Regions from separate parts of the Homo sapiens genome. Here region 1 is linked to region 2. Evidence: fine-mapped expression QTL. A gene starts in region 2. The other region holds a variant in brackets. All regions are shown on one strand. Distances are from middle to middle. Region 1 overlaps LAMP3 (lysosomal associated membrane protein 3). Region 2 holds the start of LAMP3 (lysosomal associated membrane protein 3).

What was found. PIP is the estimated chance that this variant, and not a neighbour inherited with it, causes the effect. A credible set is the group of variants that fine-mapping cannot tell apart.
Region 1: its variant is the best candidate, but not a certain one, in a credible set for the expression of LAMP3 in fibroblasts (GTEx, PIP 0.73).

What each region holds. Positions count from the first base shown.
Region 1 is chr3:183,129,356-183,133,744 of GRCh38, forward strand. All of the region lies in intron 5 of LAMP3 (lysosomal associated membrane protein 3), which reads right to left. Among named protein-coding and RNA genes, the nearest start is that of LAMP3, 31 kb to the right of the region's middle. The variant G/A (reference allele first, on the strand shown) is at 2,596.
Region 2 is chr3:183,160,537-183,164,925 of GRCh38, forward strand. It overlaps LAMP3 (lysosomal associated membrane protein 3), which reads right to left and starts at 2,198. Exons shown (of 6, transcript NM_014398.4): 1 at 2,071-2,198. The coding sequence starts at 2,119. RefSeq lists an enhancer at 1,377-1,586 and a silencer at 2,199-2,408.

The sequences.
Region 1 (4,389 bases), 31 kb before region 2:
ATCTTCAAATATATCTTCATTCTATTTTTGAGGTCTATACGTCAGAGGCACCAATTATACTTATGTTGGATGGGCTGAATAGCTTCTATATCTAGTAGCTTCCCTGTAATGCTTTAATCATAAGGTTTATCTGTATTACCTGTAATGATCTCAGTCATTCTCTCTATGAAAATAATATAATTTCCTCCCTATTTATTCTGCCTCTGACTGTTTCTATACATTATGCAGTGTATTGCTTTGACACTCATCTTGTTTTCTTACTCTTTCATTTTAACATCTTATCTTTAAACTCTGATTACCTGGAATTCACATTAAGTGATTCTCAGCATCAAGCAATTGTCAGGAATTTCTTTCTGTTCCTTGAATTATGTTTTCTTTGTATTTTACTATTTTCATTTCTAACTTTCTGTTATGGACTAAATTGTATCCCCTCCCTGCCCCCAAATTTACATGGTGAAGCCCTAACTTCCAGGACCACAGAACATGTATTAGGACACAGGGTCTTTCAAGAAGTCAGTAAGTTAAAATGAGGTCATTAGGGTGGGCCTCTATCCAATATGAATGGTATCCTTACACAAAGAGGACATATGGATACAGACAGGTACAGAGGGAAGACCACGTGAAGACACAGGCCATCTACAGCCAAGGAGAGAAGTTTCAGAAAAACCAATGCTGCTGAGACCTTGACCTTGAATTTCTAGCCTCCAGAACTGTGAGAATATACATTTCTGTTATTTAAGGCATCCAGACTGTGGTATGTTACTAAGACAGTCTTAGCAAACTAATACACCCTCACTCCTTTTTTTTTTTTTTTTTTTTTTGAGACGGAGTTTCGCTCTGTCACCCAGGCTGGAGTACAGTGGTGCCATCTTGGCTCACTGCAAGCTCTGCCTCCCGGGTTGACGCCATTCTCCTGCCTCAGCCTCCCGAGTAGCTGGGACTACATGCGCCTGCCACCACGCCTGGCTAATTTTTTGTGTTTTTAGTAGAAACGGGGTTTCACTATGTTAGCTAGGATGGTCTCGATCTCCTGACCTCATGATCCGCCCGCCTCGGCCTCCCAAAGTGCTGGGATTACAGGCGTGAGCCACCGTGCCTGGCCTCACTCCTTTTCTTAATTTAATTTCAAACTATTCTTATTTTGCTGCAGTATTTTGGCACAGTGGCCATGCAGTTTGTTTTCATCTTGCTCATGCTTGAGCGTGGCAGTCGAGATACTCCATTTCCTATGATGCCGTTTGGGTGAATTATGGTCTTTCTTTCCATTGCATCTGAGATCAGTTAATGTTTCCCTTTGGGTTAGATATTTGGATTCTATTCTCTTTTTTGTAGCATGGAAACTAGCTGCAGCCTGGAGCGATCGTCTGCTTTGGGGTTTCTTCCCCAGTTCACCTCCGTCTGTCCCTCCCTTTACTCTTCCCAGTCTTCCTGGGAGCCATTTTCACTACCCTAGGTTGGAAAACGAAGAAAATAAAGCAACCCACTCTTTTTTTTTTCCTCCAGGTTTAGTAATGGAGGAGTTCACAGAATTTTTTTCCCTCTCATCACAGGCTTCTTAGGGTGAATGTGTGTGTGGTTAGGAGGGGAGGCAGGTGAGGAGCCCAGCTCCACTGCCCCCTCTGCTCTCCACCTGGAAAGTGGGCAGGACTGTGAGTAAATTACACATCCAAGCGTTTATTTACTGGCCATTCCAATGAAACCTTTGCTTTTTGTGGTTACCAGAATGCTAATTCAAATTAATTCTAAAAATAATCAGTACTGGGGTCGGGGGAATAGATAGCAGGAGTCCAAGCAGTGGCCATCATCCAAAAGAACTCACTGAAGAAGGTAGGGAGGAAAATTAAATTTAAGTGGTCATATCCCTCTATACTTGATTTTAAATTCTGCTTCTTGTTTCATCTGCTAGGGGAGAAATTTCCACATGCTAGAAGGTAAATCTTACATTAATCATTCTGCAGAAGAGTGAGTGGCTGGTGAATAAACACCTTGTCCTCTGCCCTACAGAACTTTCGAGTGCCCTTAACACTGGACACAGGGGAGCCTGGAGCAGGTGCCAGTTTGAAGGAGGAGGTGGAAGGAGATCACAGCTCTCCAAAGCCAAGCTCTTGCTGTTAAGCCCGAGTCTCTTTGGGGAACTCCCGGGTCCTCATATCAGATTGTCATCAACATCTGTTTTAAGAGGGAAACAGACATTTTCTGACACTCTGGATGTCTTCAGGGGCTCTTAGTGCTCTTTTGAAGCTGCGGTGTGCCCTCCCCACAGCCCCAATTCTAAGAAAACAAGGAGAGCAAAAATGCCTCCTGGGAGAGTCAGTACATTTCCTAAGTAGGCAGTAGTTTTAGAGTTGTTGCCAAATTTCATAAATGTCATGTTAAAAATAATGAATGGCACCTCTGGAAAATTTGGAAAAACAAGAAAACTTCCAGTCAGTAGAATCAATTAAGAACATACCTCTCCTTTTTCTCTGAATGAAAAACCCCCATCAATGTAATAGGAAACCATGAATAACATCCTAAGCCATATTTTAATAGAATTTTTCCCTCAGATATCAACCGTCCCCCATCAGGAATGTACTGCTTTTGGTGAATGTTTGC[G/A]TAAAAGGGAAGTGAGTGATCCTCCAGGCAGGTCTACCTCTTCCTGCTTGCCATTCCATATTGTCTCCCTGCTCTGTCTCCCTCCTGTCCTGCAATGGTCCAAATGGACACATTTACAAGAATAAAATAACATCAAAGAAAAGCCGACAAACCCGGAAAAAAGTAGCTAAGAAGGCAGACAACACATGAAATTGAAGCAACTGAAGGGCTAACATTTATTGAGCCCCTCCTTTTTTGCCATGATCTTTGATATGTGCTTTAAATTAAAAAAGTGAAATAGGCAGTTTCCTAATTTTTTAAACTGATAATACATTACAATAGAGTAGGATATGTTTTTTTAAAATAATAGCATATTAAGATCATCTATAATTTAAGTAAACAAAATTTGGGTAAAATCCAGGAGTTTAAAATCATTTTGTAATCAACTTTGAAATGCATTGGTTTTTTTAAAGTAATGTTTTTAAAAACTGAAAATCAGGACTCTTGAAAATGTATAAGAAAAATCAGTCAATTTGTAAACGTCTTCCCCACAATTCTCCCTCCGGGTTTTCGCTTTCTCCCTTCTCACAAGCACCCCACTCATGTCTCTGCCTATTGCCCCTAATTCCGGAAGCCAGCACTGGTATATTCAGGTATGGCAGAGGGCATCAAGCACACCTGGCATGGCCTCCCCAAAGCAACAGGAGGAAGTAGGGGAGGTGCTGTTTCCCAGCACTGCGGTAGCCCTTTGGTGGAAAGTTAGGTTTCCTAATCAGCTCAGGAGGGTGCAACAGGCAACGAGACAGGTCAATCCTTTCACTTCAGGCTGAATATGATGCTGGAATTCCCAAGACCTTAACTTTGCACATTTTGAAGAAAGTGGGGCTTTACATGCGTTCATATCCTCTACTGGGCCTCTTTCTGGCCACCAGACATGCGGTTAGCAAAATGACAAGCAGTCCTGTGATACTCAGGCCCATGGCCACAGGGATTTCTCTCCTGTTTCTGTCACTGAAGCATTCATCCGCTGTAATTGAAGTCAGAGTAACAAGTGTTACAGACTGGCCACAAATGCTGGGAAGTGGCACTGCCACATCTGCCTCAGCTTTGGAGAAAAGAAGACAGAGGGGAAGATGGAGCTGTTGGGGCTCAGACAACAGTGGGTGAAAACGAGAGGGAAAGGGTCAATACAGTGGATCTGACACGTGTAGCACTGGTAATTAGTTAGGGAGCTTATTAAATTGCAGATGCCCAGACACATGCCCAAGAAATGATAATTCAGTGGGTCTGAGCTGAGGCCAGGGGAATTCTGATGCTGCTTCCAGGCAGATCCAACTTTGAGAAAATGCTAGTTTGGCCTAGAGGGTTGTGATCAGAGTTATGTCTTGACTCTCAAACTAGAGTAATTCCCGGAGCCATATTCTCCAACTCTAGTAATAGTTTGAGACAGAGTCTCACTGTGTCACCCAGGCCAGAATGCAGTGACACAATCTCGGCTCACTGCAACCTCCGCCTCCTGATTTCAAGTGATTTTTATCCCTCAGCCTCCCGAGTAGCTGGGATTACAGGCATGTACCACCATGCCGGGCTAGTTTTTTGTATGTTTAGTAGAGATGGGGTTTTGCTATGTTGGCCAGGCTGGTCTCATAGTCCTGGCCTCAAGTGATCCACCTGCCTTGGCCTCCCAAAGTGCTGGGATTACAGGAGTCAGCCAACACGCCCAGTCCTAACTCTGTGTTTCTTACAGGGGCTGCTCAGATAGCTTGGGGCTCCTAAATCAGCATAATAAACAGCAAAAGAAAAGGACAGCAAAAA
Region 2 (4,389 bases):
ATGTCTTGAATGCCAGTCTCAGGAATGCTACTCACTAACTGGGAGACCATGAACAATTCCTTAACCTGCCTCTGCCTCAGTACCGCCATCTGTAAAATAGGGATAAGAATAGCACCTACTTTTCAGGGTTCTTATGAGACTAAATAAGTTATAGGTAAGTAGATGTATGAGTAAAGCACATAGGTTAGCTGCTATGGGCACAGACTCTGGTTCAAAGCTCGACTCTGTCACCAGCTAGCTATGTGATCAGGGGCAAGTTATTTAACCTCTTTGTGCTTCTATTTCCTCGCAAGTAAAACGGAGACAATAGCAGTACTTACAAAGCTGTTTTGTGGATTAAAGCACTGCGAACAGTGCCTGGCATGCAGAGAGTGCCAGGAAGCCATGTCCATCATTGTTAATTACCATGTGCTGATGAGCCCTGTACTGAGTGAAGAAGGGGCTCAAGGTCAGGTTGTGAGGTGAATGGGAGAGGGACTGGAGGGACAAACAGGAGATACGAGTTAACATCACTGAGCAAAATCACTGCAGTAATTGCTGTCCAGGTGCTACCTCATTTGTTTCCCCAGTACTCCTAGCAGAGGATATTATTCTCCCCATTTTTCAGTGAGGGAACTGAGCACCCGAAAGGTTGGGTGATGTGAACAAGGCCTCCCTGCTGGGAAGGGTCAGGGCAAGGGTTTGAATCCAGTTCCGTGCCACCCCTCAAAGGCCTCCACCTCTGAGGAAGAAACCTCTGATGCATCCTTCACCTAGCTCACCTCTGAGAATTTGTAGCTCAGAAAGGAACCGGTAATGTGGGCATTTTCTCTCCACTTGCCCTTGCATTTGTCAATACTCACTGTATTTTTATTTTTATTTATTTATTTTTTTTGAGACAGAGTCTCACTGTTACCTAGGTTGGAGTGCAGTGGCATGATCTTGGCTTACTGCAACCTCCGCCTCTTGGGTTCAAGTGATTCTCCTGCCTCAGTCTCCCGAGTACCTGGGATTACAGGCGCCCACAACCATGCCCGGCTAATTTCTGTATTTTTAGTAGAGGCGGGGTTTCACCGGTGGCCAGGCTAGTCTCGAACTCCTGACCTCAAGTGATCCGCCGGCCTCAGCCTCCCAAAGTGCTGGGATTGCAGGTGTGAGCCACCACGCCTGGCCTGTCAATACCATTGTGTTTCTGAGCCTATCCATCCATTCAAGGAGCGCTCACATACAGGTCACTGTGGGTTACCGCTAGGCTGAGATTGTTTTGCTTTTTTAATAGCTTGCCCTGTGGAGCGTGATGATGACTTCCTCTTCTGTCCCCTAAAAGAACCTGAAACTGTAAGTGTGAAAGTGTGGCGCAGGGGAGAACTGCCTAGGCAAGGGCAGCTGGCACGACCCTTCTCACCTCTTCCCTAACATTCCTAGCATTCATGTTACAAGCAAGGGCCACCGCGCCCCCTGCTTGAGCATGTTAGCCGGGCGGTAGGGACGGAGACAGTTCTCTCATGACGTTCGAGTAACCAGGAAACTTCATCACAGGGACAACACCACAGCACCCGAGGACTCAATGTCTAGGGGGAAAAGCTCTGGAGAAAGCGGAGGGTCGGATCATAAAATAATCATAAACTCAGCGTCCCAGACGGCATCTGGGATGGGAAGTACAATGATCATTTAAAAAAAAAAAAGTCTTTGACACTCTTCCTACACCTTTCTGAAATGGCACAATCTGTCAGACCACATCTGATGCAAGGAAAAGCAAGACAGGAGCGCTTTTCCCGGATAACAAAGCCAAGACTCCCATTCCTAAACCCTAGCTCAGGTCTCCATCTCTTAAATCCGAGTGACCTCTACAAACTCTCCCTGAGAAGGTGTCCAGAACCCTTTTGGAAGCGAGGGACAGTGTCACTGTCTTTGGGGTTGACACCTGCTCTGAGTAACTCACGGAAAACAAGTTCCAGCTGGGAAGCCCTTGGACGCGCCACACCTCCCTACCCGCAGCCCGTCCTGTGGCGCCCGGGACTCCAGAGTGCGTTTAGATGAAAGGGGACCGACACGTCAGGGCCACCGCGGGAAGCGCTGAGGGCCACTCACCGGCCAGGGACGCGAAGAGCGCGGCCGCCGCGCTGAGCTGCCGGGGCATGGTGGGCGCTGGGCGAGGTTCTGCAGCGTGCGGCGAAGTCCGGGCAGGCCCCGAATCGGTGCCAGAGAAACCTACCTGTGCCGGAGAAACGAAACCACCTGCTTATGAGAAGCAGCCGAAAAGCCCGCCCAGGGCCGCTGGGCGGGGAGGGAAACTCCGCCGGCCCCCTCCTACCCCTACGGAGCAGGGAGGGGCGGGGACTCGGCGCAGCCGCCGGGGCCCGGGCCTCTGGGACCGTTTACCGCACGCGCGTGGTCCCGGCAGCGCCGGCCTCCTCCGCTCATACCCTGGGTCTCCTCCTTTCTTTTTCTTTTCTTTTTGAGACGAAGTCTCGCTCTGTCGCCCAGGGTGGAGTGCAGTGGCGCGATCTCGGCTCACTACAACCTCTGCCTCCCGGGTTCAAGCGATTCTTCTGCCTCAGCCTCCCGAGTAGCTGGGATTACAGGCATGCACCACCACACCCGGCTAATTTTTGTATTTTTAGTAGAGACGGGGTGTCACCATATTGGCCAGGCTGGTCTCGAGCTCCTGACCTCGTGATTCGCCCGCCTCGACCTCCCAAAGTGCTGGGATTATAGACGTGAGCCACCGAGCCCGGCCAGGGTCTCCTCTTTTATTTCTTTTCTTTTTATTTCTTTTGTTTTGTTTTGTTTTGTTTTGTTTTTTGAGACAAAGTCTCGCTCTGTCGCCAGGCTGGAGTGCAGTGGCGGGATCTCGGCTCACTGCCCTGGTTCAAGCGATTCTCCTGCCGCAGCCTCCCGAGTAGCTGGGGTTACAGGCGCCCGCCACCACGCCCAGCTAATTTTTGTATTTTAGTAGAGACGGGGTTTCACCCTGTTGGCCAGGCTGGTCTCGATCTCCTGACCTTGTGATCCGCCCGCCTCGGCCTCCCAAAGTGTTGGGATTACAGGCGTGAGCCACTGCGCCCGGCCCAGGGTCTCCTCTTTTCTAACAGCTCGGGTACCTTTCTGGGAACCCAGAGACGCTTCTCAGCCGGGAGAAAGCCAGCCACTAGGCGAGCAGGAGCCTAAAAACCCCTAAGCACCCTGACTCCATGTCTTCCCAGGGAGTCTGCGGCAGCCGCGCTCCACGCCCAGGCCTCGCCAGGACCGCGGTTTGCGGGAAGCAACAGGAGCACAGCCCAGAGGCGCTAGGTCTGGCTGGGAGCTCGCGCTGCCGACTCCCCGGCGTGCGGCGTCGGGGAACCTCTAGGAGCCTTGGATTCTTCAGCTGTAAAACGGACATAATAATGCCCACTCCCAGTGTGTTTTTTTATTTTCTTTTTTCTTTTTCTTTCTTTGTTTTTGTTTGTTTGTTTTTGTTTTTGTTTTTGAGACAGGGTCTCACTCTGTCGCCCAGGCTGGAGGGCAATGGCGTGATCTCGGCTCACTGCAAACTTGGGTTCAGGCGATTCTCCTGCCTCAGCCTCCACAGTAGCTGGGATTACAGATGTGCGCCACCACGTCCGGCTAATTTTTTGTATTTTTAGTAGAGACCAGGTTTCACCGTGTTGGCCAAGCTGGTCTCAAACTCCTGACCCCAGGTGATCCGCCCGCCTCGGCCTTCCAAAGATCTGGGATTACAAGCGTGAGCCACTGTGCCTGGCCCCAGGTGGTTTTACAGACCAGAAAATCCTGGAACAAAAAACACACAATATCGTTTTTTTTTTTTTTTTGGAGTCAGGGTCTCGCTCTATCACCCAGGCTGGAGTGCAGTGGCGTGATCTCGGCTCACTGCAACTTCGACCTCCTGGCCTCAAGTGAGTCTCCCACCTTAGCCTCCTGAGTAGCTGGGACCAAAGGCGCGTGCCACCACGCCCAGCTATTTTATTTTATTTTATGTAGAGAGGAGGTCTCGCTGTGTTGCCCAGGCTGGTCTCGAGTTCCTGGCCTCAAATGATCCTCCTGCGTTAGCCAACCATTGGGATTACAGGCGTAAGCCACGGCCCACGGCTCAACAACGCTGACAGGCAACCTTTTAATGTCTTATCTCCTTCCTCTATTAATTGGATTGTCTGTCAAAACAACGATGTTTTGACAGGGCTTGAGTCCCAGTGGGGAATACACATTTAAGCAGTATATTAGGAGACCCTCCTTATCACTAGATTGAGGGCTTTCAGCCTAGCCTCAAATTATTTTCTGAAAAATAACTTTGGCTACAACTATTTTGTCTTACTATGTTGCTCCAAACACTAATCAAGTAAACTTAACCAAAGCTTGCAGTGTGTTTCAGAATGGAATTTTTATGGTGAAAAGTGAGGGTTAACTTGT